Homo sapiens: one gene and its partner. The protein of the gene in region 2 purifies or fractionates together with the protein of the main gene of each other region. This does not show direct contact. Each region holds a gene or a part of one and is shown on either strand. Other genes may lie near its edges.

What was found.
Region 1: the proteins of PARP4 (region 2) and TEP1 purify together in Homo sapiens (affinity purification with western blotting, with the first as the bait; one study listed by BioGRID). This does not show direct contact.

The regions. Positions count from the first base shown.
Region 1 is NC_000014.9:20,378,704-20,382,513, forward strand, and holds part of TEP1 (telomerase protein component 1), read right to left. Parts: intron 3,654-3,810; coding exon 3,521-3,653; intron 3,361-3,520; coding exon 3,210-3,360; intron 2,984-3,209; coding exon 2,850-2,983; intron 2,699-2,849; coding exon 2,610-2,698; intron 2,343-2,609; coding exon 2,228-2,342; intron 1,773-2,227; coding exon 1,532-1,772; intron 1,351-1,531; coding exon 1,227-1,350; intron 403-1,226; coding exon 278-402; intron 151-277; coding exon 51-150; intron 1-50. UniProt on the Homo sapiens protein: Component of the telomerase ribonucleoprotein complex that is essential for the replication of chromosome termini. Also a component of the ribonucleoprotein vaults particle, a multi-subunit structure involved in nucleo-cytoplasmic transport.
Region 2 is NC_000013.11:24,509,719-24,514,291, forward strand, and holds the start of PARP4 (protein mono-ADP-ribosyltransferase PARP4), read right to left. Parts: upstream 3,061-4,573; 5' UTR 2,988-3,060; exon of another isoform or gene 2,805-2,987; intron 1-2,804. UniProt on the Homo sapiens protein: Mono-ADP-ribosyltransferase that mediates mono-ADP-ribosylation of target proteins.

The DNA of each region.
Region 1 (3,810 bases), on a different chromosome or scaffold from region 2:
GTGAGTCATGGCTCAGGGCCACTCTGACCACTGCAGACCCCAAGTCTTACCTTTAGGCATCCTCCCAAGCACACGGTGGCTAGCAGCCGGCAGTCTGGGCTCAGGCAGCAGCCAGTGATTTGGTACTGGTGAGCCTTAGTCTGCAGCACCCTATCCCAGGAAGATGAAGTCAGTCCTCTGGACCCTGGCCATCAGCTCCCTCCTCATTTCCTTCTCCTGGGGCTTCCAAAAAATGGGGAAGGCCCTCATTCCAAGACAAATGGGGAGGACCCCTTACCGACAACCATGCTGCAGGTCCCAGAGCTCCAGGAGCCCGTCGAAGGCAGTAAGAAAGAGTGTATCATCGGAGAGGAACAAACAAGCAGAGATTCCATCACAGCCACTCACCACAGACTTCTCCTCCTGCGACAGTGGGTGAGGGAGCGCAGCTCAGGCCATCCCCTTGACCCTCCAAGTCCCACCACTCCAGGCCCCACCCAAAAAGAAGGCCAAGGCACAAAGGCCATGAGTCCTTGGCTCTCTATGTTCCAAGTCAAGCACACGTTCAAGTGGGGGCCTCGTGATCCAAGTGGGGCCACATTTTCTCCCCTACTCCAAACCCCATACCTATTCCCCAAGTTACAGAAAATTTTGATGGGTCTGAGAAAATGGGGTTACATGGGGTAGGGGATGACATGAGTGTAAAGAGGATAGAAAGAGGCTGTGGTTCTAGGACTCACCTCTCCAGCCTAATGTACTATTAGCCTCCCATAAGCACGCTGTGCTGCCATAATTCCCAGCAATTTACAAATTTACCAGGAACATTCCCCTCCTGTGTCTTTGCTCAGGTTCCTTGTTCAAACAAGAGTGCCTGCCCTTCTCTATCCTATGTCCTCCTATAGCTGCACAACTCACTCATGTCTTAATTAGATTACATGGCTATGTTTTGGTTCCTTTTTTACCTCGTATGTCTTATCTCCCAACAAAACTGACCACTTGGTGGGCAATGACAATGTCCCAAATCCTGTGTTTCTTGCAACGCTTAGCACAGTGCCTTAAATGGAAGGTGTGCAGCAAATATTTGCTGTGTGATTGATTTTTTGGCCAAGCCCTTTGAGCTGATGTGCAGGCAGTAAAGTTGCTGAATTAATCAGAGTGATAACAGGTGTGTTTGGCTCATCTAGGGCTTCAGGGCAGTCTGCATGGATTTTCAGAGGGTAAATTCTGCCCCTCCTTGATTGTCATACCTGCCAAGTTCTCAGGTCCAACAGGTAAACTGTCCCATTGGCAGTGCCCACAGCTGCTCTTTGCCCATTGGTGGAGAAGGCCACAGCAGTAGGGGATGAGGAAACTGCCAGAGACAGGCTGGAGCTAGAGAAAGAGTAGGAAGAAAGGGAGGAAATAAACGAGAGAATGCAAACAGGAGTTGATTTATGTGCTTCTGTGCCTGGATCCCTCTCCAGTGTTTCTGGTCATCCTTATTCCTCAGTTTCAGAAAGAGCTGCAGCTTGCTCTCTGGTGGGCTTACTAGGGTCTGGGGTCAAGGTCTTACCTTTGCTGATTTTTCATGGTCCGGGGTTTATTAAGCCATCGTAGTGTGTGTTGGAGGTGCCATCTCCGGGAGAGCAGCGAGGCTTGGTGGCAAAGAGGTGAGTCCAGGGGCTGGTTGGCTGCCTGCTGGGGCAGGAGCCGGGGGTACTGGCTGAGGATTGAAGCCTGCTGCCTCAGGAAGGTGCGAAACACTGCAACGTCAGCCTCGGGGAGCTTTTGTTCCTCTTTGGGGACTGAAGAAGCTATAAAAGGGTGGCAGAATGTCACTGGGGAGCCAGCTGGACCCCATTAGCCCCAGCACCAAATAAAACCATATGGTGTGTCTACAATAGTAAGTCTCAAAGTGTGGCCCTCTGGCCCTATATCAGGAATATCTCTTAAAAGTACAAAGCTTTGAGCCCCACTCCAAACCTAGGAAACCAGAATATGGAGACCCAAGGATCTGCAATTTGAACAAGTTTCCTAGATAGTTTTATGCTAACTAAATAAAGTTGAAGAATCTCTGGTCCAAGAGATCAAGGTGAAAGGTCTCCTGAGAGTCACGTGCTCACCCTCTTGGCATTTTCAACTCGAAATGGAAATTTGAATCTTTTTTCCCTGACACCCACACCCCTGCCCCAACCCTGAGCAGGGCCCCCATAAGCACACCCAGGAGTCCCATATCTCAGAGAAGAACCCAGCCAGTGACTCATCTCACCATAGAGGGCATGGGCCTCCAAGAGCCGAGAGACCAGACCCAATTCCAAGTGTGCAGCCACCACATGGAGGTTGGTAAGGAACTTCGAAAGAAGTCCACGGTTCCCGCTCTGGAGCTGAGAAGGTCAGATTGAATTCATTAGGGATATGAAGGGGCTGGTGAGAAGGGACAGTTTAGTCTCAGAACCTGGATACAGAGATAGGATCTGAGCTGGGACAAAGGACTTGAAGAAGAAGGGCAGGAAAACTGAAAGGAAAGAGGTCAAGGGAGTTTGGGAGGGGTAATGGCGGCGGTGATGGTGGAGATGGTAACGGGGAGAGGGGTCTCAGAGCAACCAAAGCACTCACTTTGGGAAAGGTGTCTATGGGGTCTAGGAACTAACCAGGTGGTAAGGCAGGTCTCCCAGAGCCTCAGGAGGGCAACTTCGGAAGGTGCCTGAGGCATCAGCGTCACATGTCTTCCAGAGCTGAGCTGCATGAACAGATATTGAGAAAGGCTCAGCCCTGCATCATTCCCAAGGGCAGTAGGTGAGCTGGCCAGCAGATGGGAGCACAGTGGGTGGTCCTGGCCTCCAGGCCCAAGCCCCACACTCAGTGCCCAGGCTGACTTGGGCTGCAATCACCTGCAATGAGGATGTGTGCCGTGTCCTCTAGCCCTGGCCTCTTCCCATAGCAACGTTTAGCTGCTGTTCTCAGGGGCCCATCAGGGAGGCACAGCCGGGCACCAGGGCGCTCCAGAGGGCCCTCCCCTAGCAAACTGTCCTCGTGTGAGGAAGGGAGAGAGAAGAAGGAAGAGGCCTGTCAGTGAGCTTCCTGGCACACAGTGGGCTCCTATTCCCCCCTCAAATAGCGGAAACTGGAGCAGCTGGAGCAGTAGCTCATTCATGGTCTGGGAGCCAGTTGTTGAAGCTATACAGAGGGCCCCGGCTCAAAGAAGGGAAGGCACAGAGAGGTCAGCGGGAGCTCTGCTGGGGCACCTGTACCTGCGCAGACTCTGGACGAGGCAGGCAAACGGGCCCATGGGGTAGGGGTCTCCACTGTTACCAGCAGCCACTGCTTCTTCCCAGCTCTTAGTCCCCTTCGGTAGTGTCCGCCACACACTCAGCACTCCGTGCAGCTGGTCCACAGTCAAACCTGAAAACTCAAGCTCTCTGAGGCCCTCATCTAACCATACGGTGTCCCCGCCCCCACCACACCCAGTCTCTCCTTGAACTGCCTGCTGAGACCCCAAGGGAACCAATGTAATCCGAACCCTGGCCCTCAGCCTCCCAACCAACCCACCCCAAGCACTGACCACTCCGTGTGACTTCTAGGGCAGTCAAGGCCTGGGGAAGGACATCAGGCCCGTGCTCCTTCTCCAGTGTGCTCAGGATGTGCTGCAGCAGCAGGGGGACAGTGGCAGGCAGGGTCCGGAGTCTCTCAGACACCTAGGATGGCGGGAGGACAGCCTTGTTCAGTGCAGTGGGAGGAGAAGCAGCTTGGCTTGTGGGATAGGGAAGGGGCAGCAGGAGGACAGTGTGGAGGAATGAAAAAGTAAAGAACAACAGTAGGAGGGAAGTGAGGCGAGGTATGAGGCGAGGATAG
Region 2 (4,573 bases):
TGAGCCAGTCTCGCTCTGTCACCCAGGCTGGAGTGCAGTGGCATGATCTCAGCTCACTGCAACCTTCTGCCTCCCAGGTTCAAGTAATTCTCGTGCCTCAGCCTCCAAGTAGCTGGGACTACAGGCACGCACCACCACGCCCAGCTAATTTTTGTATTTTTAGTAGAGACGGGGTTTCACCATGTTGGCCAGGCTGGTCTCGAATTCCTGAGCTCAAGTGATCTGCCCACCTCTGCCTCCCAAAGTGCTAGGATTACAGGCATGAGCCACCACACCTAGCCCCCACTGTTGATATTTTAATTTTTTTGGTGTTATTATTTCTTGTATCATTGTATTTTCTAAATTATTAATATTCTATATTTAATGTTATAGCCAGTTGCTCTTTACTTTTTAAATAGGACTTTCACTTTCACAGCTTATTTAGCTTTTAGTGATATCCTCCCCATGTCACTAAATATTCTTTGAAGGTGTTTTTAGTGGTTACATAAGCTTTGCGTTTATTTCATCCTTCCCCAAGTCATCAGATACTTGGTTACTTAAAAGTGTTCACTATTGGCCGGGCGCGGTGGCTCACACCTGTAATCCCAGCATTTTGGGAGGCCGAGGCGGGCGGATCACGAGGTCAGGAGATCGAGGCCATCCCGGCTAAAACGGTGAAACCCCGTCTCTACTAAAAATACAAAAAATTAGCCGGGCGTAGTGGCGGGTGCCTGTAGTCCCAGCTACTTGGGAGGCTGAGGCAGGGGAATGGCGTGAACCCGGGAGGCGGAGCTTGCAGTGAGCGGAGATCCCGCCACTGCACTCCAGCCTGGGCGACAGAGCGAGACTCCGTCTCAAAAAAAAAAAAAAAAAAGTGTTCACTATTAGAAATACACTTTAATTAAAATGCTTGTACATATATTTTTTTGCCACATCTCTGTCATAGTTTCCCTAGAGTTGATGGCCAGAAATGGAATTACTGAATCAAGGAGTATAAACATTTTTTAGCCTTTTAAAAATTGTGGTACAGTTTTTAAAACTGTGTGTACAGTTCAGTGGCATTAAGTACATACACATAGTTGTGAAATCAAAGTATAAACATTTTATTTTATTTGAGACAGGGTCTGGCTCTGTCTCCCAAGCTGGAGTGCAGTGGTGTGGTCACTGTCACAGCTCACTGCAACCTCGACCTCCCTCCCAGCAATCCTTTCACCCGGCCTACTTAGTAGCTGGGACCACAGGCCTGCACCACCATGCCCAGCTAATTTTGGTAGAGACAGGGTTCTTACTATGTTGCCAAGGCTGGTCACAAACTCCTGGGCTCAAGCCATCCTCCTGCCTCAGCCTCCCAGAGTGCTGGGGTTACAGGTGTGAGCTGCCACGCCCGGCCCAGAGTAAAAACATTTTAAACATAAATCTGCGGTCTGTTCTTAGCACCTGCGGCTGCGTGGGAGGTATGGAAAGGCGCACTTTGGGTTTCGTGAAATCTCAAGTCAGGTCTTGACTTCTCTCTTTCCACAGATTCATCTCTAGTCTCTGTAAAATGCCAGCCCTCTTCTGGGTTAACAGCGCCTAACCGACATGCGCCACTAGTTCTTCCTTGTTTCAAAGTGTTCTCTAAACACAGAGTTAGTTCATGTTTTCATCAGCGCTGATTACGTACATATGAGATGTGGCGGACACTGGGCTAGGGGCTGGTTATTCTCTAAGGCAAATCTGCACAGTCACTCCAGCCTGTCCCCCTTCCCAGCTTCTTCCCCAAATAACATTCACAGAGTGTCTTCCACCCAAAGACAGCAGGGAACAGCCCCGATTCCTAAGAAACCCTCAGCGCGCCTCCTCACAAACTCTTGGCTGCTCCATAAACCATTGGTGTAGGTGGAATCAAGTGGCTTCCTGCTTCACAGGTCTTCGTCTTTACCACTGGCATTTCCTCCTCTCGGAAAACCCTGAGGAGTCCCTTTCTGGGCAGTCTTGATTCTACAGCCTCCGCCTTCCGAAGTGTGTGAGTCAGCACACGCTAAGATCACTTTTGATATACAGTGGGCATTCAATAAAAGCTTGCTTACTAAAAACTCTCACGTATCCATTAAAGCCCAGGATTACAGAAAAGCCTTCTGACACTATTTGCATTTTGGACTCAAATGGCATCAGTAATGCACCTCCCTAATGGGTTTATTAAACCCTTAAACAACAAAGGTACTACTTTTATTTCACTCCTACATGATATACAGTAGCTCTACGCACACAAACAAGACCTAATGTTTACTTAATAAATGATAAAGTCAGATGTAATGAGTCTGCAACACGCACATCTCAGAGCGAACTTCCCCTTTATCATAGCACTATGCTTGGATATTGTCATATAATTGTTGTCATCCAGCAGTCCAGAATTGAAAGTGCTTGGGCTTGAATATTTAGCAGCGCCTTAGTTTTCTAGAACCTGTGATCTACCAACTCGATCCCTGGGTGAACCATTCGGCCCTCCTAGCAGGAATTACTTAACTGAGTTAGAGGTTTTCAACTTTGGACCTCAACAAACACATTGTTTCTATCACGGTGTTCCCAATGACTCACGAGGTCAGATAGTACTTCCTGATTACTCACCAAACCACCTTACTTTTTGCACAATTCGAAACCTAACTTTAGGAAAGAAGGCCGTTTGGCATACTGGAAACAAGAAACAACGCGTGCTACTGCGAACCGCACCGCACGGGGTGCGGAGACTTGGTGTGACTGTCGGCTCCGGTGGGCGCCCCCCACCGCACCCGGTTTCTCGTCACCAGGGCTGCGCCGCGGGGCAGAGCGGAACGACCGCAATATCCCTCCCCGAGGGCGCTGGCTGCACTAGCTAGTCCACTCCCGAGCCTAGCAGCGCCGTCAGGCCCACAGCGCCAACGCCGCGCAGGGCAAGGGTGCAGCCACTGGCGGGAAAGTAGTACGCGGGCCACTTCCTGGCTAGGACTACAGGGACCTTTGCAGCCCCCCACCCCGCAGCGCCCACGCACCTGCCTAGAGGATCCAGCTAGCTCCGGACGCTCCCCGATTCCGCGCTCCTTGCTCGCGGTACTTCCGTAATCTAGGCTCTCCCTGCCCCCGGGGCTGGGCGGGCGCCACTGCGCCGGAACCCCGCCCCGCACCAGGCGGGCGCAGCGTCCCAAGCAGGGACGATAGCCGGAACGCGCCCGGAATCGGGTCCGCCAGGTGGGGAGCGGGTCCCCGGCCTCTGGCGGGGTTTCTCTTCCAAGATCAGCCGGAGGGTTCAGGGCTTTCAGTTTCATATTTCAGGAGGGATTTTGTCAATGAGGATTAATACAAAGCTCGGCTTTGAGAGAGGTGGGTGGATGGTGCTGTCCTTTAACTGAGAAATGGAAGGGATTCACAAGGCCGGGAAAGAAGAAAATTTCGGGAAAGTTCGTGGAAACAGGAGAGTGAGATAATAAATTTACTTTAAGCCTTCCTGCGTTTGAAATTCGTGACAGTGTAACTAGTTGGAAATATATTTATCTGCCATTCAAGAGAGGCAGGGGGCTGGAGATACAGATCTGAGATTCACTGAAATGGGAATAAAGCAATGGGGAAGATTCAGATTTTTAGGATACTGAATAAAATGAGAATAGAAAGGATAGAGTAGAGAATACAGTGGAAAGGGTATGGGGTTGAATCCTGACTCCACAATTTATTACCAAGGGGGCTGGGGACAAGGTAATTTACCAAGTTTCATCATTACAACCTACTCTATAGGGTTGTCTAAGAAACAACAAGAGATTCTGGGGGAGGAGAGAGACTGATTCCTAGAGTTACCACATCGTAATGCTCAAAATGTCCAATCTTCAACAAAAAATTATGAGGCATGCAAAAAAAAAGGCGAAAAAATGGCCAATTCAAAGGAAAAAAGAAATGAACAGAAATTGTCCCTGAGCTGAGGAAGCACAGACATAGGAATTATTAGACAAATACTTCAAATAAACTGTCTTAAACATGGACAAAAAGTGAAAGGAAACATAGAAAAATAACTGAAAGAAACAACCAGGAGAACAAAGTCTCAATAAATAGAGAATATGCAATAGAAGATGTGCAAATGGTCAACAAGCATGAAAAAAAGCCCAGCATAACTAATTATCAGAAAAGTGCAAATTAAAACTGCAATGAGATACCATCTTACACCAGTCAGAATGGTTATTATTAAAAAGTCAAGGAACAACAGATGCTGGCAAGGCTTTATTGAAAAGGAAATGCTTATACACTGTCAGTGGGAATGTAAATTAGTTGAACCACTGTGGAAACCAGTTTGAAGATTTCTCAAAGTGCTGAAAACAGAACTGCTATTCAACCCAGCTATCCCATTACTGGGTACATATTCAAAACAAGAGAACTCATTCTACCAAAAAGACACATGCACTAGTATGTTCGTCACAGCACGCTTCACAATAGGAAAGACATGGAATGAACTTAGGTGCTCATCGACAATGGACTGGATAAAGAAAATGTGGTACATTTGCACCATGGAATACTACGAAGCCATAAAAAGAATGAATGGAATCATGTCCTTCACAGCAACGTGACTGCAACTGGAGGCCATTGTCGTAAGTGA